6 separate regions of the Homo sapiens genome follow, and regions 1, 2, 4, 5 and 6 are each reported to be linked to region 3. The links are microRNA targets in miRTarBase. Many come from high-throughput screens and were not tested one by one. Region 3 holds a microRNA gene; each other region holds the end of a gene's coding sequence.

Region 1 (5,398 bases), not on the chromosome of region 3:
ATCGAATAAAAATCTGCTGGAGAAAAAGGGGCCAAATTCCCTTGTTTACGTAAGAAACTGAATATCATCAAGATAGGAATATTTGGAAATCCCCAGATGTTAAATGAAATTTCTATCCCCGGTCCAGTGACTTTTTTTTTTATGAGAAAAGAGAGTCCTCACAAATGATGATCAATATTTTTAAGCAAAGTAGATATGGTTCTTGTACCCTGTATTTTCTGAAACTTTATATCCTTACTGAGGAAAATTACTAGCATCCAGTAATTCTTTGGTATTAACTAAGTTTCTCCTTATAATAAAGTCTGAGATACACACCAATATTATCTCCATTTTTCAGGTGAGAAAACTAAGGCAGACAAAAGTTGACAGGGCTGATATTTGAACCTAGTTAATCTGGAGCAAGAGCCTCTGCTTTTCCAATTAGTTACACAAACCATAATTAGAGGAAACTATTTCTTTATTATCCAAAATGTGGCAAAAGAAAGTTACAACTGGATTTTGCAATTGGCTTATAATCTGTAACCTTAGAAAGAATCATAATAGTTAGGTCATTCCCCACCACTTTGCTTAAATAGTAGAAAGAATGAGCCTGCAGATCCTAGCCATGGAAACTTTTTGGTTGTCTACTGCCACATATCCCAAAGGACAAAGGCTAACTCTAGGTCTGGAGTTGTTTAGATGTTTCTTTGAAACAGCATTCTGAAAGCAGTATGGGTAATATTAAATATCAATTGGTCATTTCACATGAGAAGGAATAAAATAAATACAAAACCCATTGACTTCCCTCTGTTACTAGGTATTCTCAAATTCCTGTCTCATTGCAATAAAATGAGTCAAAGTGAGGCTTAGATCAAAGAAGGAAAGCATCCTGCAGTTTGGCAGATCCTAAAATATTAACAGAAAGATAAAGTATTCCAGAATTTTACTTCTAAATTCTGAAATACTGTGAGACACAGTGGAAAGAGCAATGCTTAGATGACCCCCTGATCTGTCATTAACTAGCTGTGTGACCTTTGGCAGTTCACTGAGCACTAGAAAACATAGCCGAGCTCTTGGTCTACGTCATTCCCCCATATTCTACACCTTTGACAAAGATTCATAGTGACAAAGCATAGAGATAGCAATTTTTGACATAATCCCTGAAGACCACATCATTTTGTTAACTTAATTTGACCTTCATTGCAGACAAAAATTTTTGCTACTAGTCAGAATAATATTGAGACTTAATGCAAGGAATGAAGGCCATATAAAGATATGAATTCAGCTAAAGTTCAGGGCATTGAGTTAGACAGCAGACAACATCTAAGTGAAAACTATATTTTTATAGGTTTGGAAGGTGAGAAATAGATGATTAAATTAGATGCAGGAAGATATGAGGGGCCAAGAGAATGGGGCCAAGGATGGTTAGGGCAGCTGTGTTGTGAAGATAATATTATATTCCTGGGAGAATTTCAAAAGAGTTCAAGAAAACATGACATTGTCTCTGGAGTAGGGCTAATCAACTTTGTATGTTTGTAAATTTTGAGGGTACAAATAACAGTTCTTTGGCCTTAAAAATAACTAATGTAATGTGTAAGTTTTTTTCCAATGAGACAGAAATTTCCCACATATAGTTTAAAAGACTTGCAATGCAAATATTTCCTAAAAATAAAAATAGAGTGATGTAGAGTCACTTAAAGGCTTATATGCCTAATGCTGGATTCTATTAGGGAAGCTAGTTTGATAGGATGAAGGGAGCATGACAGCAGTGCATGGAAGGCATCGGAAGTGAGGGAGAGAGCTTTTGACCATTTGTTGAGTGTCACTACATAGGTTAGCATTGGTATATCTAATTTATAGCTGCTAAAATGGAGACTTCTAGCTGGGCATGGTGGCATGCATCTGTAGTTCCAGCTATTCAGGAGGCTGAGGCAGGAGGAATGCTTTAGCTCAGAAGTTTGAGGCTTCAGTGAGCTATGACTGTGCCACTATACTTCAGACTGAGTGACAGAGGGACACCCCATCTCTAAACAAATAAACAAATACATAAATTATTTTTAATGGAGGATTCTAAAGTCTGAATTGACAATTGTCTAACAACTGGTAAATAGTAAAGCTGGGATCCCAACTTTGTCTGGCACTGGAATTAATGTTAACCACACCGAAATTCTTGAGGTAGAGAAGACTTGAATTTTTACTTACTTTATTACATGTCTGCCTTTCTTCTTCACTCTACAACCCACATGCCTCTCTTAATTTTTTTGAGGTGAAGAGTACCGCCATGCAAAACACAGTCACACAGCTCACAGATAAAGCTCACTGAGAGGGGATTTGGGGAAATGAGGCAGGAAAGAGAGGTCACAATCTCTAAGACAAACAGTCCCACCAGACTACTGAGATGCCACCATGGATTAGAATGCAGCATTTTTATTGTAAAAGTCCACATGTTAGGCAATTCCCTTTGTGAAAAGGTTTCCAAATACATAGACAGGGAGCAGCTTATAATAAGTATTAGATTATATATAATATATATTCATATTGCCAATACTATGCACACATTGGAAAGCTAGCTTTTTGTAGTGTCCCCATTACAGAACACATTTCAAGTTGACAATAATGTTTCTCACCATTGAAACTTGCCAACAACTCTCCCAAAGAGTCAACATTTAATATATTGACAATTCAAAACAAGAAAATAATTCGTTCTATTTACATTTGTTTGAGGTTATATACTGGAGCACTGATATATTAAAGGTTTGTAAAACTGGCAGCTAAATGTGTTTCAAGATTCATCCAGATGACTTGATGATGACTTTACATGGTTTTATACTGACAAAGCCACTCTCTCTTCTTTTCTATTCTTTTTAGGTTATCTGTAAAGTTATACTAGCTATGATTTAATTATGACAGAGTAATAATTTCCATAAAAATAATTAACAAAGGGTGCTATTTTAGAAAAATAAGGATTCAGGATGAGTACATGAAGATAGAGCTCAACTCATCATGTTTTAAGTCTGGAGAAATTGCTTTGTTTAACTACAATGTAATCTAATGAGGCCACAGTCATTGGCTCAACCTCTATGTGAGTCATTCATTTTTTTTTTTCAGTTTTTAAAAGCTAATCTTCAATACTTTTTCGCACAGAATGCTACATTCTGAACACTAGTCAGGTATGAATTTTGCTTATTCCTGTTATAAGTTCACAAACAAAATTGTGGATGGGCAAGGACTGACTCATCCCCAAACCTGGAAAAATAATACACAAACTCTAATTATGCCCTAGTAGAGTCATGTCTATACACAAACATAGGACATAAATATTGTTTTAAAAGGAGTATGGACTTTGCCTAAAATAATTTTTTGAAGATGAACATAAATAGCTAAAGTTCTTTGGATCCTACTGGTTATTTTTACAAAATCAAATATCACTTGACAACACCTATGTGAGAAGATGAGTCACTGGTTTCAGGCCAGCACAGAGATTTGCCAGAAGCATGTGAGGGCAATTCACTTCAAACCATATTTATTGAGCACCAACTATATGCCAGGCACTATGCAAGGTGCTACAGACCCAAAGAGGAAATGACAAGGATTCTGCCCACAAGGCACTCACAATCACTAGAAGCAGATCTTGAGATGGAGAATAAGTTCTGTTATGATCTATCATCCTAAAAGGAAGAAAAAAATAGCGGCAAGCACATACAATTACTTTATACTCTAGTTATGAAATTGGGCATATTTAGAGGTGGCAAATGTTGATTATCCAGTCTATATTTTACTTAAAGTGTTGTAATATGTCATACAAGGAAAAAATAAGCTGTTCGAATCTTCATGCATGAGGGAGAAGGCAATGAAAATTCCTCCCTCCATTTCCAAACCCAAATCCTTATAATTACATTCAGGAATCTTTTATAGCCCAAGGACACAAAATAAAAGACAATAGGATGATAACTTCAGTCCATTTATTTTGGATCTAAAGAGATGCATGCACTAAACTTGAAGCATTCTAAGTTATTGAAATATTTACATCATTGTACATGAATGTGGAGGAAATTTTCTTCCTATCTTGAGATAAAGGTGTAATAGATTTCTGGACTAGGCTTTCATATTTAAAGTGAGTTATGATTTTTCTTAAATGAGGGAGGTATTCTATTGGGATCAAATTTATCACAACTTGACCCGGAGTGAACATAGGGTACAGTTTTGGACCTTTTCTATCTAATTGCATTATGAATCTAGTAAGGATACCACTACTGTAAATAGTCAGGGCTTTCACTGTTTTATTTGCTGTAGCTGAAAAATATCTTATTTGGTTTGAATGTTCTTGCTCTAATTTTACTTTGCCTTGCAGGTTTGAAACACAGCAAACATCGAAGTTCAAAGTACACTAACCAAAGGAGGGCTGGGCACAAACAATATGACATTATAAAATTTACCAGGTTTGGACATAGAAACAGATTCAGATCATTATCAACCACATAGAGGATTATTTAAGTGGACTTAGAACAGACATCTCTCCATGAGACTCAGTGAATAAGAACCATATCAGTAAAACCCATACCTCCTCACAGGTAGAGGTAGGAGACCCAATAGACCAGATTAAACAGGCAGAAGGCAGTGGGGAAGAAGATCCGAGCATAGGAGTCCATTTTGGCAATGCGGATATGTATCCTCCCATGTCTCCAAGCTCCTGTTCGACAATCTTCAAAACAGCAGAAAAAACTGGCACAGTCCTTGCCGTCCAGACACTCATAGCCGTACTCTTCATCTCTCTCTTGAAGGTGTGTAGCATTATTCATTTGAATGGTTGCTGATCTTGGGCGGATATCAATGGTAGGGGCCTGGGACGAGGGTAGGGAAGGAGAGGGATCAGTTAGTTGTTCTCGAGAGATCCTAGGCTGTTTTTCCACAATGTCACCAATGTGATGATGAATCTGAAAATGGGTACTCAGGAAATTGCTATGACATCATGATCTACAATGGTAAAATTGAACTTAGAAAGATAGCACATTTGCAGATTTCAAATTTTGAGCTTAAGCAGTGCAGCTGAAAATAATATCATCAAGCTAATAGCTATAGCAAGGAGATTGAACACCAAAAGAACTCAAAGTTAAATATTTAAATCAAATTACATGGAATCTTATTCTAGTAAGTATTAGATGTGACATTGGTTACATGAAGGCATTTGATGGTGCTGCATGTGAGTGGAACAGAGAAATAAAAATGCATCAATTCTGAAATCAAATATTGTGTCATGCTTAGTTATAGGCAAATAGAAAACCCATTACTCTGAGCAAATGTATTAAATGTTAATAGAAAATGTTAAAATATATATAAATACAGAATTTTCCTGATTGTATACCACAATGGTATGGCTTATGTTTTAAAGGACTATGATTCTTTTTCTAATATTCACCAT
Region 2 (5,429 bases), not on the chromosome of region 3:
TGCAACCTCTGACACATTTCCAAAGGCTGAATGTTCTATCTCACAAGGCAGTCCATGGTATGTTTAAAATGATTATTAGAAAGTTCTCCATGTTAAACTAAACTTCATTTCCCTATTCATTTGCTCTTTGGGATTTCACAGAATAAGTAGTCATTTGTATACCTGACAGTACTTAGACTATTTAAGGCCAATTAGAATAATTTCTCCTACAGGTCTTGGACTTGAGTCAGCTTGTAAGGAAACTTTCTTTCTTTCTATTTTTTTTTTGAGACAGAGTCGCTGTGATGCCCAGGCTGGAGTGCAGTGGCACAATCTCAGCTCACTGCAACCTCCGCCTCCCGGGTTCAAGTGATTCTCCTGCCTTAGCCTCCCAAGTAGCTGGGATTACAGGCATGCACCACCATGCTCAGCTAATTTGTGTATTTTTTGTAGAGACTGGGTTTCACCATGTTGGCCAGGCTGGTCTTGAACTCCTGACCTCAGGCGATGCTCCTGCCTCGGCCTCCCAAAGTGCTGGGATTACATGCGTGAGCCACCACGCCCAGCAAAATTTTCTTATAATCAAATTTACTCTTGAAAATCTCTTAAATCGCTCACGAAGTACAGTTCTAATAAAGCTGATTTTATCTTCAGGATTGGAATAACTTGCTGTTCTTTTGGCTGAGCTGCAGATGAACTGATAGGCTGGTATTTAAGAGCCATGTTATATAAAAAAACTATTCACATAGCATGAATGCATGTAATTGAATTATCCATATTATGTAACATTATAAAATATTTAATGTTTTCCATTAAAAGACCCTTACTGAGTACCTTCAACATGCCAGGCACTGTGCAAGGGTAGAACATTTGTCACACATTCCTTACCAATGCATCGATGTGGAAAAATAGGCTATTAGTTAACAGAATAGGAAAGCTACTTACTGAGATGAAACTGACATTTAAAGAGAAGATTGAGAAAAAAAGTATAGTGTTCTTCATGGAAAAAGCAGGTAGTTATGTGAACCACATGACTTCTGTATCTTGAGAAACAAGTTTCTGTAGAGTCATCTTCCAACCCTCTAATATTCAGTGATTTATGAAGACTTGGGTGATCATTGAAGGAATACTGGTTTACAGCAAATTCCAAGTATTTAATCCTGGAATTAATCATGTAAGAAACTCCAAATAATGCTATTTACTTAGCAAAATAAAAATAATTTTTACTAGGAAAATTTCAAAAATATCTTTAAGTGAACTGGTTAATAAATCCTTTTAAGACATGTACTTCTAAGGAAAGAAGTTATTCTAGAAAAACAAACTACTTATCTAGTCTTTCAGTGATCCTGAAAAATATTTTATGGGTTATCATAAAACAAGAATAACCCCAGCAGCCATCACAGTGGGATCTCCCGGATAGAGCAATAGTGGGCGATTACACCAAAGGAGTACCACATCCCTTTGCCATTCAACAGAGTTGAATTTTGCTAAAAATACAGATCACAGGAAGCCTTGATGAGGTAATTAACTCTCAATGCTTCACAGAGGCTGAAAAATGAAAAACGGTATTCCTACACCTGTCTTGAAGTCAGCCCTGGGTAGGGCAGGTTTATGGCAGATGGTGTGTGCAAAACCCATACAGCTTTTTTTTAGGTAGTGGTGGAGGTATTACCTTCTCTCCAAGTTGATTCCTCCATCACTGGTGCCAAACTACAGCAGTTTTGCTAAAAATGTGGCAATTCAATGTGCAGAAAAGATAACGTTGTGGGAAAGCCCTGACTCTTATAATCTTACTAACAGCTTTTTACTGTGTGACCCTGAACAACCATTAACCTCTATTTTCTTATCTGTAAGTCAACAATATATGGCCCATAATCTTAAGGGATAGGAAAAGGGTCAAATAAACTGAAACTTCAAAAAGCATTTTGTGAACTGTAAAACACAGTATATGTAAAAAGTCTAAAGGACGACAGAAACTTAGACAATTCAGAGAAAAATTCTACTGTGAACATTTTATTTTCACAAAACAAACTTTACAGATTTTACAATCTCCCAAATTTCACTTATTTAAAAATAGGAGAGACAAGGCAACCTAGACTCCAAGATTGCAGGCGTGAAAAAACTAGTACCAGATATTCAAGTTATATATGCAAACTGCATTTTATATACCATGAAAGTGAAATGTGACAAACACTCACTAGTTTCAAGTGTACCTTATAAGAAACACATGGACATACTTGGGTTTTTTAACCACATAGTCTCATATCAATAAACATCTAAGTATCTGACATGTATTTTTCCATTAAAGGTAGGCACAACTCTATGAATATCAAATTATATCAATCATTTGCTTTTTATAATCTTGACTGGAAACTGAAAAATAAGAGGAATGTAAAGTTAAGTAGCCGAAAATGCTACTTACTGCACAAAAGCACATCATGAAAAGGAATGCTAGAAGTAGTTCTCCTCAGGAATGGGTTTTTGAAAATTTAAAATATTATTTTATCAGAAAAGTTAAAGCCTTCAGTGGGAAAACCATGGTAAATGACATATTGACTCAATCTCTAAAGCCCTGGCAAATTATAGATTTTGTGCAATTAGTGACCAACATATACATTTAAGAGATAATACTGACTGTTGACCAGAACCTTCTGATGGTTCTGAAGCATCTGCTCTTTAGAGTTACTTCAGCTTTACATGTCTATGAAATTTAAGATTCCTCAATGGGATGTTATAGCTTATTCTGCACTAGATACAAGTAATATGTATAGATTTAGAACAAATGACTACTTTTCACCTTCCAGGAGCCTGTTTTTATTTATACAAAATTAGATTGGTTTTTCACCCACATGTATGCATAAGTGCTTCTCAAATTTACACCGTTCATATCTGAAATCCCACAATAAATGCAAATAAATGGATACTAGTTTATATATTTCATATTTTCATTCATCTTTTTTTTTTTTTTTTTTGAGACAGAGTCTCCGTTGCCCAGGCTGGAGTGCAGTGTCGTGATCTTGGCTCAACTGCAACCTCCACCTCTCAGGTTTAAGTGATTCTCATGCCTCAGCCTCCTAAGTAGCTGGGACTACAGGCACGCACCACCACGCTCGGCTAATTTTTGTATTTTTAGTAGAGACAGGTTTTCACCATGTTGGCCAGGCTGGTTTCAAACTCCTGGCCTCAAGTGATCCACCTGCCTCGGCCTCCCAAAGTGCTGGGATTACAGGCATGAGCCACCATGCCTGGCCTTTCATCCATCTTTAAACAAATTCAATGACCATCTAGAGACAGATGTGACCAAAGTGTTACAAATTTCTATGCATTTTCTATGAATTGCTCTGTGCAGTTCACACATGGGTTCATTCACCCCGCAGGCTGTGAACTTCCTTATCCTGTAGGCTGCAGGTACTTAGGTTTCAGCAACTACGCGACCCAAAAGACTAAAGGAGGACTTGTTTAAATTAGTCCCTCTCAAAAATTGTTTCCAATCTTATAACAAACAGATTTAATATGCTTGTGGGTTAAATTTTAAAGTAGTTATGAAGCCATTTACTCTAATATAAATGAATGAAATGTAATTAAGAACCATACTTAAACGAGTACTTAATTTTAATGAATGGTATTTTTCATTTATATACAAAGGAATAGCCAGCAGCATTTAAATATAGAAATAGTCCCATCTCTTCTCTATTCCCTTTTATAAAGTGCCATTTTAATTGGGTAGATTTACTACCCAGATTTTCAGTAACTACAGGATAGGTATCTAATTGTCAAGAAAAGCTTGGAAAATTAAGTTTAGCATTTTAAACATTTGTAAAACATTGCTACAAGTCATAGAGACTACCAATGTATTAAAATAAAAAGTGTACCTTACATAAGAATCATTAAGTTGGTTTAATAATTACTTCACAGAAACATGGGCTCATGAATACTTAGGCCAATTTGTGCTAATTATTTAAACCAGAAACAGTTTCTGTAGGTAATTCAGCTCTAAGCACCATTAAATAGGGTTATGCCAAATAGAACAATGGTTAAATAATCCTCAGAATAAACACCCCAGCAAATTCAAACTTTTAGAATAGTAACAAAAGTTAGTGAGAATCCGAAAGAGAGGCAACATTTTATTGAAAACTATCATAGGCTGCTAAGTGTTCTCTTTAAATAAAATTTTGTGTAGTTATTAATGTACCTTAACACTGGTGTACCTTAATAGTGGTGTTAGAGATAGGTGGAAACCATACTACAGAAGTGAATGTTGCCTGTTTCTTTTGTTCAGTGATTAAAACTGAAATTGCTTTTAAAAAAATAATTTAACTGCTACTTACAATACACATAAAATACCAAGAAGATTCCCATTTTATTCACATTATTCTCTAATTAGTATTTTTGCATTTCAACTTTGATCTGACCTTCAGTAGTACCTTAAAATGCAAATGCAATTAGTAAAAACGGGGCAGCCTGTCGTTTTCACACTTAGAAATACAATGTAGTTTCATTACAGTTTGCATTTTTTTGTTACTCTTGAAAGAGTAACCCCTTATAAAATCAGATACATAAAAACTGCATTATTCCTTACTTTGCAGGCATCCAGGAATGGTTAAAGCAAAGGAACTCTCATTCATTAATTCATTCATTCTGTTCCCCCAATTTAGATACATTTCTAGTCTCCAGAAACGGACTCCAGGGCAGGGAAGTGGAGGGCAGAGAAGAGGTACAGGTCAAGGTATGATGAATCTCTGAAAAAGACATCCACTTTTCCCAGAAGGCTAGCCTGAAGAGAACTCCGCCCCATCCATTCCGATCCCTCAAGTAAGAATGCATAATTTAGCTTGTCCTTCTGGTCTCACTTCCTTACAACACCTAGTATTCAATTTATTAAGACAAATAAACCTTTGCATTTTCTAAAAGAAGCAATTTTTACCCAAATACATTGGACTTTGGTCTCAATGTGAAGGGCGAGTGGCCTTTAACAGGTCGTTCCTCCCCCACTCCCTCCTCCCCCCTGCCCTCCAGCGGCTGCTCTGGGTCCCTGAAAGAGGGTGTGGTGTGGACGATCTGGGTTCTGAATCGGATTTTGTTGAGTCTGGGTTTTATACGTCCACTAGAGCTGCCCGAGGCTTTGCGCCCTGGATCCTTGGCTTTGCCTCCGACCCACCCCTCAGCCGAGTGGTGATGGTGGTGATGGTCCCCTCCATCTTCTAGGGCGTGTGAGAGTTTGTAGGTGATGAGATGCGAGGGAAGCACCTTTGAAAGCCTCCAGCGCCCGCCGCCGCTACCCGCGGCGCTTTCCCCGTCACCCTCGTCCAGGGCTCCCACCAGGTTCTTGATCTCCTCGGCGATGCTCCGACTCAGGTACTGGGAGGCCTTTTTCCCACTGTAGTCCCTGATGTCCACATCGGCGTCGTAGGCCCCCACCAGCAGCTTCACCACCTCCACGTGGCCGTGCA
Region 3 (5,429 bases):
TTTGGGACCACTCAGGGTCCCTGAGATGCCCATGGAGACAACTGTGGTGCTACCAACAAATGGATGGTGTCAGCCCCATCAGAGTCAGAGTTTGGGAAATGGTCAAGGCAAAGATCTCCTGGGAGAAGCAAGGCCTACCCTGCCTGCCCCACACAGCACAGGCACCCTGCCACACCTGTGAAGGGGGAGACTAAACCATACTGGGAGGCTTGGGAACCTGCTAGTTTCCTTAAACAGTGGAGAGGACAAAGAAACCATTCTATTTGATCAGAGCCAGTGTAGATTTTAGGTCAGATTCATATCAAGCTTTAGGATCAAGATATGTCTGAATGATTTTATCATCACCAATAAATATATGTATATATATTTTTGAGACGGAGTCACTGTCGCCCAGGGTGGAGTGCAGTGGCATGATCTTGGCTCACTGCAACCTCTGCCTTCTGGGTTCAAGCAATTCTCGTGCCTCAGCCTCCCGAGTAGCTGGGATTACAGATGCCCGCCACCATGCCCAGTTAATTTTTGTATTTTGAGACGGGATTTCACCATGTTGGCCAGGTTGGTCTTGAACTCCTGACCTCAGGTGATACGCCCTCCTTGGCCTCCCAAAGTGTTGGGATTACAGGCATGAGCAACCGCGCCCGGCCTATCATCATCAACAAATAATTGTAACACAAAATAATGAACATCAGGAGTGCTTATCATGTGACAATGCCCAGCACAGTATGTGGAACACAGCAAGTGCTCAATGAATACTTGCTGTATGTGAGCCAGACACTGTGCTAAGTCCTTTACATATGTTATTTCATGTGATCTAGCCACAAGGTAGCTGGAATTATCCCCAATTTATAGAAGAAACTGACATGAGAAGTGAAGTAACTTGCCTCAGATCATACAGCTCATTAGGGCAGTTGGAACTCTCATTCAGCCCAAGCATGTGGGTGAGTGTCCAACACTTATCTCTCACTTGCTTCTCCCTCAAATCTGTGAAAGCAAAACCCAAGGACACAGGGGCCTCTAGCAGTTGGCTGACAGTCAATGGTTGAGGGGTACACCATCCTTTGTCCATTACACTGGACCTGTTTGTGATTCTCTGGACTGTGGACACCCAGCTTCAGGTGGCTGCACACAGCAACTTCATGGAGCATTTGTTCTAAGTGCTCCCTGTCACCATGGTAACCCAGAAGGCTTTCAGACTGGCACCATGCACATGGCCTGCATCCATCCCATCTGGGGTGGGAACCTGTCACCATAGAAATGGCTTCCCCCACCAAAACAAAGGGCTGCTTGACAGATTGGGGGTAGGGGTGGAGGGGCTGGGAGTACCAGGCTGGGAGTGTGGGGCTGGGAAGCAGGACTCACCTTGGCCAAGCTGGCAGTAAAGAGCACACATTCAAAAAGCTGCCCCATCCTCTGGAGGAACTCGTCCACATGTGGCCGCTTCAGCACATACACCTGCAATGGCAGGAGACAGCAGGCTGGTCAGATGTGGCAGTTGCTGGGGATGGCCTGGGGCCCAAATGCCCACTGTAGGAAGAATTGCTACAAAGGTTCCTGCCTCCCTCCCCCAGGTCTATGCATAGCAGGCAGAGGCCTAGACTGTATGAGGGGCTATGGAGTCAGACGTGGCACTCCTCAGACAGGGCTCCAGGTCTGAGTTCACTGCAGACGCCCCTCCTAAGGGAAAAAGAGAAGCTGACCATGGTGTGAGGGTCTTGGGGATATTCAGGGCCAGCAAATGGAAGGGTTGTACCATGTTTGTGTGTAATGACTCATTCATTTCACGTGTGTTTCTTGGCACCTGCTGAGGGTCAGGACCTGTGTGGGCACGGGCCACGGTCTGGGTGTTGTCCTTTCAGAGGTCCAGGCCCAGCATATTGCCCAGCAGGTCTGGGATTGCTCCGGCTGCCACCTTCTGTTCTGGATGGACATCCCCCTTACTAGGAAGGTCTGGGGTTGAAGCACAGGCCCAGCAAAGCTGCAAGAAGGGGCTTCCTTGTCAGCTTGGGAAGCTGTCTATGACACCATAAAGGGTGGGCTTGGTATGTTTCAGGGGATGTGAAACCATCGCTATTCCTGGACCCCAGACATAATCCATCAGGAGGGGTCTCTGAGCAGAGGGGTGCAAAGAGTAGCCTTTTCTAGAATGGCTGGGCTCTGTGCACCCTTTTGACCAGGCCAGGCCAGGGGGTAGCAGTGAGGAGGCCAGGCTTCAGACCATACATAGGTTCTTGATTAGGGAGCCTGAATGAATCTGGGGAAACAAGGGAGATGGGAGAGAAGGCAAAGCTGGTGAGAGAAGACAGAGGAAGTGGGAGGAGGGAAGAACTAATTCAAACTTGAATAAATTCCGTTTGAAATTAGCCACTTCACTAAAATAAATCAAACTCTTTAAAATTCAATTCAGCATGTTTACTGAGCCTCAGCTCTGAGCTCAGCCTGATGTAGTTGCAAAGATGAATAAAACACAGGCCTTGCCCTTGAAGAGCTCATACTCTAGAACAGACATAGGCAAAAACATATAAAAATAAACATGGCATAATGAAAGTTGTAGTAGAGGGATAAATTAAGGACAATTAACTCCCCTCACAAGGGGAGGGGATCATAGAAGATAACATTTGGCCTGGACCTTGAAGGAGTTCACCAGGCCAATAAGGTTGAGAAGAAGTGGGCTTTCAGGCAGAGGAAACAGTAGAGGGTGAGACCCGAGGCCTGAGAATACTTGAGAAGCTAGAGAGTAGCCAGGCTGTGTGCCCAGCCATCAGAGGTAGTGAGAGAAGCCGGAGCAGCAGGGTCTGGGAGAGGAAGTGGCTGAAGATGAAGTGAGAGGCAGGTCACAGTGGGCACATTAGGGCCTTGAATGGCAGATGGAGCAGGTGAGAATGGCAGGAGGAGCAGCAGAGGGGAGATGAGGGCTCTGCACCACATGCTGGGTGTGCTGCTGGCCGAGGAATTCTATACAGAACCAAGTCATTTTCAAGGTGCCAGAAGCAGGAGCTCAGGAGGGCCAGGACTCAGTGGGAAATTCATGGGTGACTGAAAGAAGGAGGTGGACATGGATTTGTGGCTGAGGGTGGAGCGAGGGGCTGGAGGAACAGGATGTCGTAGCACGGGTGCCAACACAGCTCTGAGGAGCTGGGAGGCTGGGGTAGGGCTGAGGGCAGGGCCTGTGGCTGCAACAGCTGCAGACTCCCACTTTGCCCACAAGACTCCTCGTTGCCAGCAAACGGGTGTGGCCTGTAGTCCTCAGTCACCCTGGGAGTCCTGCTTGGAAAGCAAGCTTTGCTACATGCAAAGGGCAGGAGACTGATTTGTGAACTCTGGTGTTGGTGCCTCTGGCAGAGAGGGGGGTCCTGAGCCCGGATGCCGGCGTCCAGGCCCGCGTCCCCGTGCAAGTAACCAAGAATAGGCCCATTGGGACCTGCACAGCCTATCCTGGATTACTTGAACGAGGCCACGGCCTTCGCCAGGGCCTTGGTCCTCCTGCTCTTGGCTCCTGTGGCTTCATTCCCTCGGGAGAGAATTTCTGACCCCAGCCCTGGGACCTTGTGATATCACAGCACAGCCAGGATGGAGGGTGGGGGAGCTCCTGCAAGAATGGGTCAGCAGTGGGCAGGCCAGTCATGCTTACAGTCACGTGGTACAAAGGATTAATTTCTCTCCTAATTCTTGCTATGCCATTGGGCAGCCTCTCCTTTGTCTCATCATGAGCACTATGTAACACAAGCCAAGATGATAAATGCAGAAGCCTTAACTGCTTCTCAGATGCTGAGTTAATTCAGTTGATGCTTTTGCAAATGTTAAATGCCCAAGTGCCTGCCGTTTTGGCTCTGTGATGGCTTTTAAAAGCATGAAGTGTGGAAACACTAGGAAAAAAGCTGCCTCTCCCCGGGACTGTTTCCTGGCAGGATGTCCTGGAGAATAAGCAAGAAAGCAAGGACATGGGAGGGAAGGGACTTGCGTATCAGGAAAAGAGCCCTGGGCCAGGAGGCAGGAGACTGGAATTTTCATTTTAATTCTTCCCATCGTATGACCTTTAACCAACCCCTTCCCTGGCGGAGCCTCAGTTTCTCCATCTAGACAATGAGGCAGCTGGACCAGCTGATTCCCAAGCTTTCTCCAGTTCTGACACCTTGCACTCAAGAACCAAAGACTACTGACATTGCTAAGAAAAGACATCCCGTTGTGGCTCAAGTACCAGGAAAGTCTCCTTCCTGGGATATCAGGCCAGATACGCTCCCTTTAAGACCTTGGACTTGACAAGGAAGATGGTTAGATCATCCCTGTGGAAAATCTGACAAAAGCCCCCCAGCTTCAACCTCTAAAGCTAGTTTTCCTACAACATTCCCAATTTGTTCATAAATGAAGTTATTTCCGGAAGAGCTTTATGCAGATAAGGAAAAAAAATCAGAAGCAACGAAGACGCATGCCAACTGACTACGGCATCTTTATTCATAGCAGCCTGCGGATCCGAAAACTCACACCCTTCCCCCTTTTTCTTTTGGGGTGGGTATTTGCTAAAGATTCTCTGGAGAAAACGATGCAGGAATGATAAGATCAGTCTGGAGCAGCTGGCATTGAAAATGGACACTTTTTCCCGAGAGTCCACCATAAGTGGGTGACTTGTGGCATTTTCCTGTTGCCTGCTAGGAGAGTAGCCGAAAGCAATTACACAAGGAAGTTAATTAGACCATCAAGCTAGGCCAGTGGGGGATACGGAAACTTCTGAAATTCAAATCAAAGAACTATTTGAACTTGCAACCGCATCTAATATTTACGACTATAGTTTCCTTATAATCTCAGTATAAAATAAATTCATTGGAGTGAAAAAAAGAAAAACATTGTATTTATTACAGTATGCTTCCTTTTGATTCCGTAATAAAGTTATTACTGAAATGAGAATTTAGAAATAAAGTTCATAGGAAATGTAAGTACTAAAAAATCTTAATTGAAACTCAAATTTAGCTTCAGTTTCTTACCTGATGTATAGTTCCATCGATTTCAACCGGAACAATAAAATCAGCATTACTAATAGGCTAGAGAAAAAAGAGACTATAATTAATATGTCTGAAGGAACAAAAAAACTCTGGAAATTTTAGCAAGAAAAAAGCCTGCCTAGACCAATGTTTTGGTTATTGGAAAAAACAGTTCAGGAGGAGGATGATGAAGCATGCCTTGGTTCCTTAAAATAAGCACAAGCAGGAAAGCACATTATTTTCCACTGTGAATGTCATTACATTTTCAGCATCTTGGTCCAATATCACCTGCCTGGCCTCAACCAAAAAGTGTGGCACTGCCTGGCTAGAGGATGGGGCTCCTGAAAACTCCAGCTCTTGCCCAGAGTCTTGCTGGGGTGATGGGGAATCACTGCTAGCCACCAGGGGGAGGAGCTGAGCATGTAATGGGCTCCGAGGACAGTGCTGCTTGAGGGA
Region 4 (5,429 bases), not on the chromosome of region 3:
CCGAAGACATTTGGGGTTGTCACAGCTGTAGAGAGAGCTGCTACCAGCTTCTAGTACGTAGGTACCCGGGATGCTGCTAAACTTCCTACAGTCCACAGGACAGTTACGGCAAAGGATTATCCCGCCCATAATGTCAACAGTTCCATGATTGAGAAACCCTGGTTTAATCGCTCAACTGGACTACATTGACAGGCTCACTGTTCCACTAGAACTATCCACTTACAGAGCTCTATATGCAGTGTGGTGATGCCGTGGGACATACGTTTAAGGCTGCATATTGCAGGCGGTGCAGCTGTCTGGCAGAAGGAACAGCCAATGCCAAGGCTGAGAGGTAAGAATCTGGCTGGCATGGGATGGCAGGAAACCAGGTGCAGCTGTTGCAGAGACTCACAGGAGGATGAGATGAGGGAGTTGGACTTCTCACCAAGAAAAGGAAAAAGACAGCGTGCCCTAAACGATGACCCCCATGTTTGCAGTTGACAAATGTGTAGACTAATGGCCTCTTGTCTTCTCCCTGCCTTCCTGTTCTGTTCCCCTCCTTCCTCTTGCCTCCCTCCTGCCCTCAACCCTCTGGCTCCCTAGTTTTCGGCCACAACATGAAGAGCAGCAATGACTTCATCGGGAGGATCGTCATTGGCCAGTACTCTTCAGGCCCCTCTGAGACCAACCACTGGAGGCGCATGCTCAACACGCACCGCACAGCCGTGGAGCAGTGGCATAGCCTGAGGTCCCGAGCTGAGTGTGACCGCGTGTCTCCTGCCTCCCTGGAGGTGACCTGAGGGCTGCAGGGAAGGCAGCTTTCATTTGTTTAAAAAAAAAAAAAAAAGACGGAAAAAAATGTGTCACATACTATTACATCCACACCTGCATACACACTCGCAACATGTCTACACACGTCCACACACACAGACACACAGATACCCCAAATCCTCTCAGAACTGAGAGGAAGCTGACTATTGATCACAAAATGGCCGCCCTCAGTTGAGTGAGGCCTAGGAACTTTCCGGAAGCCCCATCCATAGATCACAAGCTCAGTGGGCTCTGCCGTGGGACTTATTGGCAGTGCCTGCTCTTGTCAATACTCCTGCCCCAAAATGCACTTTCAACCCTCAGGCCAGAGAAAGGACCTCCCAAAGGGTGCCAAGCTCCATCAAGACTAAATTTACCAAGAGTTTGGCCAGTGTGTGGGAGACTTGAACACCCCCCACTTCCGAAACACACACCTACTGGGTAACTTCTGAACAGGCTGCTGTTCCCTGGGGTTCTTCAAACCTGATACCTTTCTCCAAAGGTGTAAGTATCTTTGTCTTCTCCGTAGTAAATGTGATAACTAGATTATGGGCCATTTGGAGAAACCAAATGGCAACCAAAACTATTCCAGTGTCAGAAGCCTTTCCTGGCTTAACAGAATTGTTCTTGTGTTAGCTCATCCCAGGGAACGCCCTGTGGGTATGTATGTGTATGTCCTCGTGCATGTGCCCTCACAGGCGAACACGTGTGTGCCTATGTGTCCTCTTGGAGAGCATGGCGATGGGCCAGGACCTCAGCCCTGAGCACTGCCTTCTCTCTGCCTCTCCTGTCCAGTGAGAGTCCAACCAGTGTCCTCCTGTCTGTCAGAGATCCCACTTTGGATAAAAGTAGTGTGTGTGTGTGTGTGTGTGTGTGTGTGTGTGTGTAAAGTAAATAGGATATGATAGAGCAAAAGTAACATTTTTTGACCGAATCATGGTGATTGTGACCCACGAAAGACATACAAAGACTTGATATATGGATTAAAATGGCTATCACACCCCATCCATGATGATCTTCTTCCTTAATCATACTCTGAGGATCTTTCTGTGTTTTTCTGTGAACGAATGTCACGTCTCTCGTGCTAAGGAATTAGTGTAGTTAGAATAGATCTCTCTCTCTCTCTCTTTCTCTCTCTCTCTTTCCTCTCTCTCTGTTGGATGCTTCTGTATCTTTTTCCACAGCATAATGTCTGGTGTGATGGGGAGCTATTTATTGAAATTAAAGATTATTTATTTGTGCCATGCATTCGAGTTATCTTTTTCTTCATGAACACAGGACATAGAAGGTGGGAGGGCATTGCAGCTAGTACTGCTGTGTAACAAACCATACTGAACAAGTCAAAACAATGATTTTTTTTTTTTTGAGACAAAGTCTCACTCTGTTGTCCAGGCTGGAGGGTAGTGGTGCAGTCTCTGCTCACTGCAACCTCTGCCTCCTGCATTCAAGCAATTCTCCTGCCTCAGCCTCCCGAGTGGCTGGGATTACAGGTGTGCACCACCACCCCTGGCTAATTTTTGTATTTTTAGTAGAGACAGAGTTTCACCATGTTGGCCAGGCTGGAATTGAACTCCTGGCCTCAAGTGATCCACCTGCCTCAGCCTCAGCCTCCCAAAGTGCTGGAATTACAGGCATGAGCCACTGCACCCAGCTTCAAAACAATGATATTTATTATACTGATAGATTTTGGGGGTCAAGAATGTTGAGTATTTGCAATATGTCTGTCTGACTTGAGCAGTGTACTAATGCCAATTATTCCAGTGTTGCTCTTCTATATAAAACTTTTCACTTCCTCAGGGCAAGATTCACGGCTTATTTAGCATTTTGTTGGCCAAGCCCTGCTAAGGGCATGACCCAGGTAACTGCTCCATGGGCTAAAATGGCTTCACCCCTCAGGCTACATTGGGTATTGCAGAGAGAACCTCATGGTGTCTCCCATTCTGGAGTGGAAGTGTTGTGGAGGTCAAGGGGGAGAAACAGGGAGGCTGGGTTAGGTTGATGTATTCATCCATTTTGCATTGCTGTAAAGGAGTACCTGAAACTGGGTAACTTATAAAGAGGTTTATTTGGCTCATGGTTCTGCAGGCTATACAGGAAGCACAGTGCTGGCATCTGTGTGGCTTCTGTTGAGGCCTCAGGAAGCTTACAATCATGGTAGAGGGCAAAGGGTGAACAGGCGTGTCACATGGCAAGAGAGGAAGTGAGAGAGGAAGAGAAGGAGGTGCCAGGCTCATTTAAACAACCAGCTCTAATAGAGTGAGAACTCACTCATCACCAAGCCGTTCATGAGGGATCCACCCCCATTACCCAAATACCTTCCACCAGGCCCCACCTCCAACATTGGAGATCACATTTCAACATGAGATCTGGAGGGGGAAACAACATCCAAACCATATCAGTTAAGTTCTCAGAAAAGGAGAAGTGTTTTCCTTCTCTATGAAATGGCTTCATTACTGTGGTTTACAGTAGAAGATAAAAGCATAAAAGAACAAACAAAATGAGTGAAGACAGGTACGTAATAAGCACTTAGAACTAGAGGTGGAGTCATTGGTGATGAGGCCCAAGGGCTTTGGGCCCAAGAAACCATAGTTCAAATCCCAGGACCACCACTCCTTAACTGTGTACTGGGGCACAAACCACGTAAGTCTTCTAAGCCTCAATTTCCTCGTTGTCTTAGGGTGCCTCAAAAACAGACCTTGACATGAGGACTTGGGTGCAGACGACCCCAGAAAGCATAAGTGAAGAATAAGGGGAAGGAGAAAAGCAAAAGTCTTCATGAATTAGTACTGTGAGCTCAGTCATACTGAGGACCCCTGTAGAAAACACTAAAGAATTATCATTATGCAGAAGCTGGAGTATTTAATTACTGACGCTTGTCCCTCCTCATGGCTTGAGGGCTGCCCTGAAAGCATTAAATGTTTGGCACTTCAGAATTGTCCAGTGTGGTCTGTATAAGCTCCCATAACACCAGAGAAATCTCTGGGCAGAGGAAGAGGCACATGTGCTTGATGAGGTCAGCTGTGTATGTGCACAACACAGCTCCCTATAGCCACAGGGGAGCCAGGTGGACTGAGGGATATGAGGCAGGGCATCCCCAGCATTAGACACCTTCATTAGTAATAACAAGAGGGCTGACTAGCACCACACGAGGTGCCAAACATCACATTTAAGCCTCATGCAGCAACCTTCAGGGGTGTAGAAGAGATGTTAATCTCCTTTTACAAATGGGGAGGCCAAGATTTTTTTTTTTTTTTTTTTTGAGGCAAAAAATTGCTCCGTCTCCCAGGTTGGAGTGCAGTGGTGGTATCACGGCTCACAGCACTGGGCTCAAGCAATCCTCCCACCTCAGCCCCCCAAGTAGCTGGGATCATAGGCCTGGCTAACTTCTTAATTTTTTTGTAGCGATGAGCTCTCATTATATTGTACAGGCTGGCCTTGAATTGCTGGGCTCAAGTGATCCTTCTGCCTCGGCCTCCCATAAGTGCTGAAATTACAGGCATGAGCCACTGCGCCCAGCTGGAAGTCAAGATTTAATAAGTTTAAGTGTCAGGTAACTGCAATAGAGATAAAAAGCCAGCCCAGGCCCAGCTGCCTACCCTGTTATGGGTTGGTGATTTGCTGGAGTCCTAACCTGAGACTGTGGCCTTATTTGGAGAGAGGGTCTTTACAAAGGTGATCAGGTTGAAGTGAGGTCATGAGGTGAGCCCTCATCTGATATGACTGGAGTCCTTATAAGAAGAGGAAATTTGGCCAGGCACAATGGCTCATGCCTGTAATCCCAGCATTTTGGGAGGCCAAGGCAGGAAGATCACTTGAGGTCAGGAGTTCGAGACCAGCCTGGCCAACATGGTGAAACCCAACTTTACTAAAAATACAAAAAATTATCCAGGCATGGTGGCACATGCTAGTAATCCCAGCTATTTGGGAGGCTGAGGCAGGAGAATCACTTGAACCCAGGAGGCAAATGTTGCAGTGAGCTGAGATCGTGACAGCCTGGGTAACAGAGTGAGACTCCGTCTCAAAAAATAGAAAGAAAAAAGGAGGAAATTTGAATGCAGAGACAGACACAGAGGGAAGAAGATGTGAAGAGACAGGGAGAAGAAAGCCATCTACAAGCCAAGGAGAGAGGACTGGAACAAATCTCTCATAACCCTCAGAAGGAACCAACCCTGTTGACACCTCAATCTCAGACTTCCAGCCTCCAGAACTGTGAGACAATGAATTTCTGTTGTTTAAGCCCCAGTCTGTGGCACTTTATTAAGGCAGCCCTAGCAAACTAAGTCAGAGCCAGTGTAGCTAAACACTCCACTGGGCTGTGTCATCTAAAAATAGGATGACAATTCTTTTTTTTTAAATTTTGAGACAGGATCTCACTATGTTACCCAATCTGGTCTCGAACTCCTGGGCTCAATCAATCCTCCTGCCTCAGCTCCCCGAGTAGCTGGAACTACAGGCACACACCACCATGTCCGGAAATAGGGTGACAGTTGTTACCCCTTAGGGTTGATTAGCTGGGAAAATGCCTGCAGAGAGTTTGTTTGTTTAGTTGTGTTGTTGTTTTGTTGTTGTTGTTGTTGTTTTGCCTGCAAAGTTTTACCATAACCCTTGGCACACTGCGTGATGGTGATGAGTGCTAGCAC
Region 5 (5,429 bases), not on the chromosome of region 3:
CTTAAATTTTTGTTATTTTATTTTTATTTTTTTTTAGAGCTGGGGTCCCACTACGTTAACCAGGCTTGTCTCAAACTCTTGGCCTCAAGCGATCCTCCCATCTTGGCCTTCCAAAGTACTGGGATTGTAGGTGTGAGCCACCGGGCCTGGCCAACAATAACCACATTTTAAATCATCCACAGCCACATGTGGCTGGCAGCTACTACAGTGGATAGTGCAGATACTGAATATTTTCAACTTCACAGAAAGTTCTATTGAACAGCACTATTTTACAGGGTAATTAAATCAATTTAGTGAGTAAGAGCCAACATTTAAATAAATGAAATAGAATAGAAAACCAGTGTGCATCTCATTAGTATTGTTTTTTCACAAAATATTTTCATAAAATATGTGTGCACAGCATTGTGGATCACAATAAAAAGAAGTTTGGAAGCACTCCTTTACATTATGTGTGCAAAACCCTGATTAAAATTTAAAAAAACATTAAGGGTCAGGCACTGTGGCTCACATCTGTAATCCCAGCGCTTTGGGTGGCTGAGGTGGGAGGATTGCTTGATGCCAGGAGTTCAAGACCAGCCTGGGCAACATAGCAAGACCCCATCTCTAAAAAAAAAAAAATAATTAGCTGGGCACGCTGGAGCGTGCTTGTAGTCCCAGCTACTTGGGCGGCTAAAGTGAGAAAGAGGATCGCTTGAGCCCAGGAGTTCAAGGCTGCAGTGAGCCATGATGGAGCCACTGTACTCCAGCCTGGGTGACAGAGTGAGACTCTATCTCAAGACAAAAATACATTAAAAAAAAAAAAAAAAAAGAGTCACAGACTCCTTATACCTAGTAGAATCCTCAACTTCTTGTGATCCATAGCCTCATAGCCCTATAGGAAACTCAGAACCTAGGGCATCATTTAAGAAAATAGAGCTTGGAACAGTAATATCACAATACTAAAGCTAGACATGATGGACCATAAGGACTATCATGTTCCCTATTTCTTTTGTCATTTGTCTTTCCCTTTTTGCAAAAGGCATCATTTTTGAATTTTTGTTTGTTTGTTTGTTTGTTTTTTAATGGGAAGAAGAAACTAAGGCTAAGGCTAAGGTTATGAGATTGGCCCATGGTTACAAAGCTAGTGTCAATAAGCCCAGGTCTCCTGACCTCTAGATCTAGAACTTTTTTCACAAAATCTTCAGGGGCAGTCAGTTCTTTAAGGCCCTGAGTATGCTAGTCAATACTTTAAACAACCTGACTGATGAATAGTGTCTAGGTACAATAATAATTATGATAATAATAGCTAACATAAGCTATTGTTCTAAACACTTTACATTTTAACTCTCACAACAATCCTATTAGGCAGATCCTATTATCCATCAACCCAATTTTTCCAGATGAAGAAATGCAGCTCCAAAATGTTAATTAATTTGCTGAAGGTTACACAACTACAGTGGCAAAGCCAGGAAATAGAGCTCTTAATGCCATTTTATACACACCCTCATATAACTCAAATTAATTTCTCTCTAAAATATTAATTAGCCTAAAAGTAGCAGTTATAATTTGGTAGCGCCCACTGATAATCCATGTTTTGTCCCAAAGTATCAGTGTTACAAAGGGGTTTTACTCTATTGACTGGACCAAAGTAACAGTTTGGGATTCAAATACTCTGAACTAATGGATGGGACTATACAAGCCGGTTTAACTGCTTAATGCAATTCCATAAACCTGGAGATGAGTACTTTAAAAATATGTGTTTAAAAGTTTGGTTAATAATCTTCAAACTTGGAGATTTTATCTCAATGCATAATGAAGTACAAATTGGCTTGATAACATGGGTGGATTTATTTCTTAAGATTTGAGTGCAAACTTAAAAACAAGAACAAACAAAGCTTTTCATCAAGAATAAACACAAAATCTAAACAATTCTGCAATCATGCATTTTAACAGAAAGTACAAATATGAATACATTATAATTTGTAACTGCATTTAAAAATTAAAATATTTCTCTCCAAATCCAAAACACCACACAATCTTTATCTGTTCTCATCTTGTTACCTTAGAAACATTTGTCATATGCTATCAGGAAAATATAGGCAAGACTTACTAATCAGTTATTCATGATCAAAGAAACATGATTCTCCTTAACTGTGACTTTTTGAATCATTTATCTGTATTTCTGAAATATCACACAATTATACCTCTACTCTAGAGAAAAAAAGAATAAATACAAATATCAAGGAGGCAGGAACATTCATGGAATTAAAGCAAAAGTCACAAGTGTTTGACTTAGAAATGTACATATTGTAGTAAATTTTTAAAGTACAACTTTAGTTGATGGCTGATGTGTATGTAATAACTGTGAGCAATTTAAACAGGTATAAAAATGTGAGATCAAAATCTTTAGGCTTAAATACTTGAAAAGTCACTATGGATATGGAAAGATTTGTTTACATAAACATGTATATTTTTAGATGGAAAATCAAGGGGTAGTGGCATCTCCCTGGTCCCTTAACAATATTTGGATTTTTGCAAAGAATTAGCAGCACCCAACCTTAAGTGTTAATTATGTGTTTCTAAAGGACCTATAACAGATCAGTTGGCAGTGTTCTAGCTTTTGGGAGTTGGGGGCAGATTGGGGGTGCAAATATCTGAGATAAGATAGTACATGCACTCACACATTTAAAATCACCATTCTAAATGGGAAAAAAAATCACATATTGGAAAAGTCTAAGAAACTCATTCTTAAGGGATAAACAGCAGGGCAGGAATAAAAGCTGAACAGTAGTCTACTTGATAATAATGGTATTTCACTCTTCAAAGGCAAGTTGGGAAGAATGAGAATACTCACATACACATAACTTCAGGGAAAACTTGCCTAAAATTTTACCTTGCAAAACGCTGAACAGAAATCTTTACAAAAACCTTCATTCTTGTTTATAATACTTGATTTTTCCCTTATTACCACCATATACATAACATTTAAGTATTTTCTTCATAAATATTTTAGAGCAAAAAGAATGTATTTTGTTGCAATGGTGGCCCACATCTGTACAAAACAACATAAGCAACACACACACACACATATATATATGCATATATATAAAAAATGATTAAGAAAAAGTGCAAAGAATAACAGTATTAAGATTTTTTGCATTTTACAGTAACTATGGTTCAAGTGTGAATATTTATCAGGGATATATAATCCCAGGTTTTAATTAAAGATTCAAAAAGAAACCACACTCCCAAGTTACTGCACAAACATCAGTCCCTTATCAAGTAACTCTGCCCTTCTCCCAAATCTAGTATTTCCAGTTTCTAAGCTCTTCCCAAACAGGAAAAAATGATAACAGTGTTTTCTTCCCTTTAACTTCCCAAAACTCATCCAAGTTAATCACCTGTAAGTTCAAGCAAGATATTGGGGAAGTCATTCATTATAACCCGCTTTGCTAAAATTAAAGCAAAATGAAAGGCTTTCTGAAATGCAAACTACTGATCAAGAATAAAATCAGCAACAGCAAACAGACCTTAAATTACAAATGTAATTTAATACATGTACATTTTAAAATCAATCCCTGTTATCAAAGATAAATTCAGAGTTTAAATCTCTTTCCCAGGTTCAGTGCTGTGCAAGGGTTCTAATTCCAAATACTTATGATTTTATCACCTTTTCTAAGAGAAAATGTTTGCCTGTTAACTTTTTACCTTCCTTGCTCTTGGTCTCAGCTTTTCAGTTTGAATAAACACAGAAAGGCAATTTTCAGCATTTCAAAAAATGTACTTTCCTCTTAGTCATTCAAATAATTACAGTTATTTTTAGATCTCAAAGTTTCAAAAAAAGCAGCTCAATTTCCCTTTAAATATATTACTAGATATTTTTTGGTGTTGTATATGTTGTTCTATTCTTATTTTAGGCACTGTAATTATTCACAACATTACAATGACTCTATATCTAACCTATGCAACAATTATAATCTTAATACCTTCTAAGGTATTATTTGATTTTGTGTATTATATTACTATTGAATTTTTCCTTCAAGATAAATGGTTGGAAGAGAATTTTAAAGCCCTGCAGCACTTTTGCTTTGAGTAGTGTTAATACATATTTTCTGTCATGCTTAATATTTAAACTTCTGAAATAGGAAGACAAGAGGCATTGGAAGCTGCAAATTTCCTCAAACTACATTCTACTCCAACTCCAATTTATTTTGTTCAACATTAAATATTTTTCTTTACAAAAACAAGTATATCTTAGGCTAATTTTTAAAAACAGAATTTCTGCTCTATAATAACACAGCTAAAGGGAAATAACTTTTCAATTTCAGCTGCACTAGAACTATGCAAAACTAAGTTAAAGTAAACCGGACAACAATTTTAATAACTTTTGGTTTTGTTTTCTTTTTACTCTATCTTTAGAATGATATACCTTACATTCTAACAGTTCAACAAAGGCTTAAAATTCTAGAGGTTGAAAACCACCAGGCTACCTCCTGCACAACTGTCAATAAGACAACAACATTTTATTTGCCCCCATACATTCGTTCAATGTCTTTGAGGTAATGGTTCCTCAGCTCCTTCCTTTTCAGTTTGAAAGCATCAGTTACCAAACCAGTTTCAGGGGTCCATGGCTCTGGGCTTAATCGAACCTTGATTGGAATTTCAAATCGCTCCAATTTCACTGAAATTAGAAGTGAAAGATGGGAGAAAAGGAGAGGGGGGGAAAGAGACGAGAAAGGAGTGGGGACGGGGAAAGAAGGGGAAGGAGAAGCAATTAATAAAATATGAGTTTTTCAGGATTTACCTAGATGATTCGGGTGTTGAATCACCAATCACCACAAACTTATTTAATGGTATACTAGATAGTTTATTAATGCTACCTCTACCTTACAATTTCATTTTATATTTCTCAAAGTATACCTAAGTTGTTTCAGTTGGATAGTTTTAGTCTATGTGGTTATTAAAATATACATACATATACACATTATTTATACTCACACACACACACATACACACACATCTTCCTCTTCAGAGACTTTATATTTGCCTGAGATGGTCTTTCTCAATAAAGTTGTGTGTCACTTCCATACTTTATCCATATGTCTGCTCAAATACCACCACCCCGGAGAGGACATCCCTGACCACTCATAACAAAAGAGAAGGGGGAGGAGCCAAGATGGCCAAATACGAACAGCTCTGGTCTACAGCTCCCAGCCTGAGCGACACAGAAGACGGGTGATTTCTGCATTTCCATCTGAGGTACCAGGTTCATCTCACTAGGGAGTGCCAGACAGTGGGCGCAGGTCAGTGGGTGTGCGCACCATGCGCGAGCCGAAGCAGGGCGAGGCATTGCCTCACTCGGGAAGCACAAGGGGTCAGGGAGTTCCCTTTCCTAGTCAAAGAAACGGGTCACCTGGAAAATCGGGTCACTCCCACCCAAATACTGTGCT
Region 6 (5,429 bases), not on the chromosome of region 3:
GGGTTAGGTGGAGCTGTGTGTTCTGGGGAAGGCCTGTCCCTCCCAGCAGCCCAGAGCCAGCATGCATTGTTGATTGAGGGGTAAACGGTCCTTAGAGTGTGTGAGAGAGAGCTGGGGGTTGCGGGGTGAGCCCCATGGGGGACATTTGCCCATGGAGTGCTGGGGAAACAGCCGGAGATGAGGACAGGCACCAGCACTGCCGGTGAGGACGGGTTGCCTGCGGGCCTTGTAGACGTTCTGGACATTTCAGAATTGGTTTTGCGTTCCCATTTCAGCGAATCGGGGAAGGAGATTCGTGAGGGCTGCTTGGTACCCGAGGATCCGAGGATGCAGTGGATGGGCTCATTCTGAGTGTGGTGCAGGCTCCCAGGATCATGGGCTTCCAGCTGGGGCTACTGGGAGACAGTGATGGCCCCCGAGGCAGCTGGTCCAGCGGGAGGGAGGTTGAACGTGATCTTGTTTGCCTCGTGTCTCGGGTGCTGTGGTCAGGCGTTGTCTGTGTGGTGGCCCTGTGTTTCCGTCCCCGTCCCACTGCACCGATGACAGGGTTTGCAGCTGGCGCTTCTGCTGCGAGCAGACTGAGGAGCCTTTCTTGTCCTTCTGAGAAGGCCGCTGCCCGGCCCCGCCTCACCCAGCGTCCTGTGGTCCTGCGGGTCCCCCTCTACCCTGGACTTCGGCCCCTTGTCTTTCTCTTTCAAACTCCTCCTCTGGCTCTGTTCCGCCCAGTTCAGTTCTTGGGCCTGATATCTGTTCTAACATCAGGCTGCGTGTGGGTTGGATGGAGCCCTCAGTCATCACGTAAACCCTTTGACATCAGTAAAACCCTGGGAGCAGCCGCTGAGCGCTGGGACATCCCTGCTCACCTCACTGGGGAGTGGCCTCAGGCGCTCACAGGGAACCGCAGTGACTCTGACCATAGCCACTTAACGCACACACACAGCAGAGGCCCTGGCGATTTTGCAACCATCATTAAAATCTCTTTCCTGACCTTTGCTTTCTAGGTGATTGAAAACTCAGCCTCAAAACAAAAAATTCACTAGTTATGGTAAGCTGTTTTCCTGTCTGTTTCCTCATTGTTTGTGGTGGCGCTGAGGGGACGCAGGCAGAGGAGTTTTAATTCTGCGGCTCTGCCTGGGGGCTGGGCTCATAGGAGTTGGCAGAGCCATGGAGAGGCCCCGGCAGGTTCCCAGCCAGCCCAGACCCAGGCCACGCGCTTGGGGACAGACCTAGACCCTCCACCTCATCACGTTTGCATTACTGGCTGGGGAAGACCCGCATCCTTCACGCAGGCAGAGTCGCCCTGTTCCCTTGTGCCTCACTTGGGAAAAGCCAACCCGGCTCACAGCGGCAGAGCCCACGGGCCTTTGATAAACATCTGGGAAGGGAGAGGCCCGGTCCCCAGCACAGGCACCTCACTCAGGAGAGCGGAGCCTTGCTCCCTCGTCCGTCCCGTCCCCTGTGCTGCTGTCTGCGCCCCGAGGTGGCACTGAGCTGGAGCCAGCACCCCCCCAGCAGCCACCGTACAAAACCATAGGAAGGTGGCCCAGGGCCGGGCGGCAGATCAGGACCTCGGAGCTGTGGGGCTTTGTTGGATCACTTCACACAGCGGTCCTGGGAGAGTCACTGGTTTTATACCTGACCCTTGTGGAGCTAGAGGGGACAGTGAACCATTTTTCCCTTGAAAGGAAACTTTGTCCAAATGTGTCTGTCACATGTAGTCAGCAAGAGGAATTTAAAATGAATTGCCAAGTGAAGAGTCTGTGGATTAATTGGCCGTTAATTAACAGGCTTTATCAATGTGTCCTCAAGGGAGAGGCCCAACCCTAATTAAGGAGCTAAACTTCCTGAGTGAGGGGCTGTGAGGATGGAGGTGGAGGAGGCATCTGGGGCGGGTGGTGGCCGGGCCCAGCAGATGGCGCCTCCCTGGCTGAGCTGCCCGCACCGCCAGTTCCCTCATTTCCACTCAGGAAGGCAGAGAAGGCAGAGTGATCTCCTCAAGGAAGAGCTTCCCCAGCCTTCGGGAGCAGCTGGCAGGGCGTCCGGGAATAAGCCCTACACGCCGCCGCCTGCCTCCAACTCACTAACCCTGCGCCTCTTGTCTTTCAGATTCAACGCGTTCAACAGAAGCCATCCCCAGCCCAGCTTAAATTATAAAGATAGACAATAACTCTGTTCCAATCTGCGTGGTGCTTCTTTAGTAAATACTGTACAGATTTTACCATGGAGAACTTTTTTTTTAGTTTTTACCTTTTCTTAATTACCCTTATTCCGAATGGACGAACACTTTCTACCACTGCTGACCATTGTAAAATACCGTGTATATAAATCCCATTGAAATAATGCCCTGGAATAGAACATCTCAAATGCTGCTTAATTACAGACTCAGGTCGATTACTTGTATTTCATGTAATGTTCCTCCAAGTTAGACATCTGGTGCAAGACCAACCGGGAGACCATGGAATTGTCAAAAGTACAAACTGACAGTGTGTATATTTAATTTAAAGACTTATTTAAAAACTCACAAGCTCTCACCTAGACTTTGGAGAGCAGTCTGTTTTCTGTAATGTCTGATACTAGAAACTAATTTGCTTATTTTAGTTGTATTCAAGATTTGAAGATGTATTTTATAGACAAGTTCTGTTTTTGAACTTTGTGGAACTGTTCCAATCAATCAATTTCCCAGTTATGATGAGTATTTACATTATGAATGTATAACCCAGACATGATTTGTAAAGCCGACAGTATGTTTCTATTACACAACACTTTTTGATACAGCGTCTCTTGTCTTCACTGATACTGGAGTCTCCGTTGTCTGCTTGGTCCCTTCGAGTTTCTAGTTACAGACACAATCATACTGTGATTTTATTTTTAATATGGATATGCTATCAAACTGTGATACACTTATAATTCACTGGTCCTGCATCAGGAGATGGAGTGGGGAAAACTGTATTTAATACAGTTTGTATCTGAATAATCTGTATGGTTTATACAGTTTGTGTTGTTCAGAGATGTTTAAAGTTTGATCTTTGTTTTTCTAAAGATTAAAAAAGCACTTGCCCCACTGTAAATATACAGCATGTAAAATTTCTATAGTATATAAATGGCAGCAAATCACACACTTGGCGTCTTTTTACTGTTGTTTTCCCCATTTGCTTCCAGACTCCTTCCTGTCATCATCTGAATTCACTTTCTTAAAACCTTCAAGTAAGTGCTCCTGCCGAAGTCGGCACCTTCGGCCAGGCCATCCCACCTCGGACGGGCAAAGGAAAATTGGAGGGGTGTTTGCTGGACCCAACAATATCTGTTTTAAAGAACCAAGTCTTAGGCTTGTTTTAACAATACATGTGATTTTTATTTAGTGAACACAGTATCTGCAAGAGCTCTGACAGCCATCCACCCTCCAATCTTACTTCACTTTACAACCAAGTATCAATAGAGGCTGTTCCTTCATGCGAGCTGTGGGAGTATATACATCATTGAATAACAGACACTCCAGAAATCAACAGATGTACATTATTTACATATTACTATATTTACCGCAAATAGAAATATTTTCTAAGAAAAAAAGTCAATTTGTGGTTTCTGGTCTACCACAGACCTAACTTCTCAGCAAAGCATATCTATGTAGATATCTGCGTTTGTAACTTTAAAAATAGGCATTGCTTTCTATGAAGCACTAAGTGCTGCTCCATCTATAAATAGCTCCTATTTTCAGTTTGGTACCACATTAAACTGCCCCAAAATGTTCTGTGACCCCAAAGACACAAAGTTGCTGCTTATCTGGGTCCAGGGTCAGTACAATTAAACTCAAATATGAACCAGGGCGGCCAGCAAGACAGGCTGGAAGGGCTGTGGCAGTCGCCGCCGCCTCCCCGCGGGGCTCCCCTCACTGCCTCCTGGCCTCTGTCTCTGGAAAAAAGTATCTTTGGCCAGAGTTGGGACTAACAATTCAAGCCCTGCGCTCAGACGTCAGGGTGGGGAGGAGGAGGACTGTGATTGTGACGCGGCCTGCCCAGGGTGAGGGACAAAAAACAGATGTGTCCTGTTTCAGGGCCGTCCTGGTAGCGGCTGGCCCTGCGCAGTCACTGACCCAGAGTTTTCTGGACCAGGCCTGCCTCAAGGATCAGCAGGCATGATGGTCGCACAGCCTTCATGCTAATACTGTCCTAACACAGCCTGGAGCTAGGCGATTTCCTTTGACCACAAAGTACCTGGAGTCTAACTCAGCACCACAGCCTCTGCATGGCTCCCAGGTGCCCACCACCTGGCGAAGCTCATTCACAGATGACAGCAAAGGGGGAGCTTGATCATCTGGCGACTCCTTCCTGCTGCTTCTCCCAACACCCAAAACAGAAAGCTCTGCATCCCCAGGTCACACCTGGGTTGGTCAGAAGAAGGAAACAGCTTGTCCGAGCACAACATGCTGACAGAGCTGGCTGTGGCCAGTCTTGGGTGCCGGGCCAGCCTGAGGGGTGGGCACCGCCGGAGCCGGCCGTCAGTGTGTGGTCTGGGTGGGGGTCCAGGCAGCATTTATTTTCATGGAAGACTGGAGGCCAGAGTTGCATATCTACCAGTCAGGCATTTCAAGAACGCTGACTTGCCTTTCTCAGAACTAAAACTTCCGATTTGAGGTATCAGTAACAAAGCCTAAGAACGTGGGAATGAAAGTCTGATGCAGGACAGGGGTTTCTGGCCTCGGACCCCTCTGCAGTCTAGTGTGACTTAAAGCTACATCAAGGTCAGCCGCAGGGAGGCGAAGGGCCCGCAGCCGCTCGGCCTCCACTTCAAGGCAACTCAAAGAACAGTCTCCGCTGCTGAGAAGGAAACCTAGGTGCACAAAGTCTGAGGTTTTGTCTCTGGACTGGGCATTTTGCACAGGAGTACAGATGCCCTCCAGAGGGTGCAGATTCAAGGTGTGTGTGCCTATGCAGGTGGGGCAGGAAGAGGAAGTCCATAGAGGAAAAGCCAGCCACCAACCCAACAGCCCACTGTGTAACAGGGTCCTGGGGACGCAAATCTCCCGACAGAGAACAGCGTCTGCCACCGGCCCGGGTCGGCCCAAGCACACAATGCCCCCGGTCCAGCCCTGAGCCCTCTCTGTAGGTGGGGCCCAGATCCAGCCTTCCTTGAGCGGAGCACTGGGCACCTCCTATCCTTACATCCACAGCAACCTGACAACCTCCCAGGCGGGCGTGGAGTTTGACCAGTTCCACCACCGGCGTCTATCTGGGTTCTCTACGTGCCGGGCCTCTGCACCCCAGGGCCTGTTCTTCCCTCCTCGTAGGGAGGGCACCTCTCTCAGGACACGGCGCACTACATGGGGTGAGACTGTTTTTAGTTAATTCTGTGTCTATTCATTAAGAAATCTGGTCAAATTAGAAAGTCTGTAAAATAAGCGTTCATTTTGCCACAGGTTTTAAATAGCGATG

Evidence for each region. The annotated mature microRNA hsa-miR-26a-1-3p reads CCUAUUCUUGGUUACUUGCACG and lies in region 3 at 3,386-3,407, opposite strand. An mRNA with a match to its seed (bases 2 to 7 or 8) in the 3' UTR can be bound and repressed. Matches are read on the target gene's strand: a 7mer-m8 pairs with bases 2 to 8, a 7mer-A1 pairs with bases 2 to 7 and ends in A, and an 8mer does both.
Region 1: miRTarBase lists GABRG2 as a target of hsa-miR-26a-1-3p. Seed matches in the 3' UTR shown: 8mer at 2,834-2,841.
Region 2: miRTarBase lists SOWAHC as a target of hsa-miR-26a-1-3p. Seed matches in the 3' UTR shown: 7mer-A1 at 3,669-3,675.
Region 4: the mRNA of SYT17 is a reported target of hsa-miR-26a-1-3p. Seed matches in the 3' UTR shown: 8mer at 1,893-1,900.
Region 5: the mRNA of ACSL4 is a reported target of hsa-miR-26a-1-3p. Seed matches in the 3' UTR shown: 8mer at 3,881-3,888.
Region 6: miRTarBase lists USP42 as a target of hsa-miR-26a-1-3p. Seed matches in the 3' UTR shown: 7mer-A1 at 2,348-2,354.

What each region holds. Positions count from the first base shown.
Region 1 is chr5:162,152,515-162,157,912 of GRCh38, reverse strand. It overlaps GABRG2 (gamma-aminobutyric acid type A receptor subunit gamma2), which reads right to left. Exons shown (of 10, transcript NM_198904.4): 10 at 2,387-4,820. The coding sequence ends at 4,545. Among named protein-coding and RNA genes, the nearest start is that of GABRG2, 87 kb to the right of the region's middle.
Region 2 is chr2:109,615,538-109,620,966 of GRCh38, reverse strand. SOWAHC (sosondowah ankyrin repeat domain family member C) reads right to left here. Exons shown (of 1, transcript NM_023016.4): 1 at 1,977-5,429. The coding sequence ends at 4,900. It also overlaps a transcript of RANBP2 not described here. Among named protein-coding and RNA genes, the nearest start is that of SOWAHC, 3.9 kb to the right of the region's middle.
Region 3 is chr3:37,967,430-37,972,858 of GRCh38, reverse strand. MIR26A1 (microRNA 26a-1) reads right to left here and starts at 3,455; the gene lies at 3,379-3,455. CTDSPL (CTD small phosphatase like) reads right to left here. Exons shown (of 8, transcript NM_001008392.2): 5 at 4,977-5,033; 6 at 1,360-1,452. RefSeq lists enhancers at 2,660-3,221, 3,222-3,785.
Region 4 is chr16:19,266,298-19,271,726 of GRCh38, forward strand. It overlaps SYT17 (synaptotagmin 17), which reads left to right. Exons shown (of 8, transcript NM_016524.4): 8 at 583-2,035. The coding sequence ends at 779. Among named protein-coding and RNA genes, the nearest start is that of CLEC19A, 17 kb to the right of the region's middle.
Region 5 is chrX:109,639,527-109,644,955 of GRCh38, forward strand. It overlaps ACSL4 (acyl-CoA synthetase long chain family member 4), which reads right to left. Exons shown (of 16, transcript NM_001318510.2): 16 at 1,809-4,660. The coding sequence ends at 4,503. Among named protein-coding and RNA genes, the nearest start is that of KCNE5, 17 kb to the left of the region's middle.
Region 6 is chr7:6,158,449-6,163,877 of GRCh38, forward strand. USP42 (ubiquitin specific peptidase 42) reads left to right here. Exons shown (of 18, transcript NM_032172.3): 17 at 1,002-1,045; 18 at 2,107-3,116. The coding sequence ends at 1,009. It overlaps CYTH3 (cytohesin 3), which reads right to left. Exons shown (of 13, transcript NM_004227.4): 13 at 3,331-5,429. Among named protein-coding and RNA genes, the nearest start is that of USP42, 56 kb to the left of the region's middle.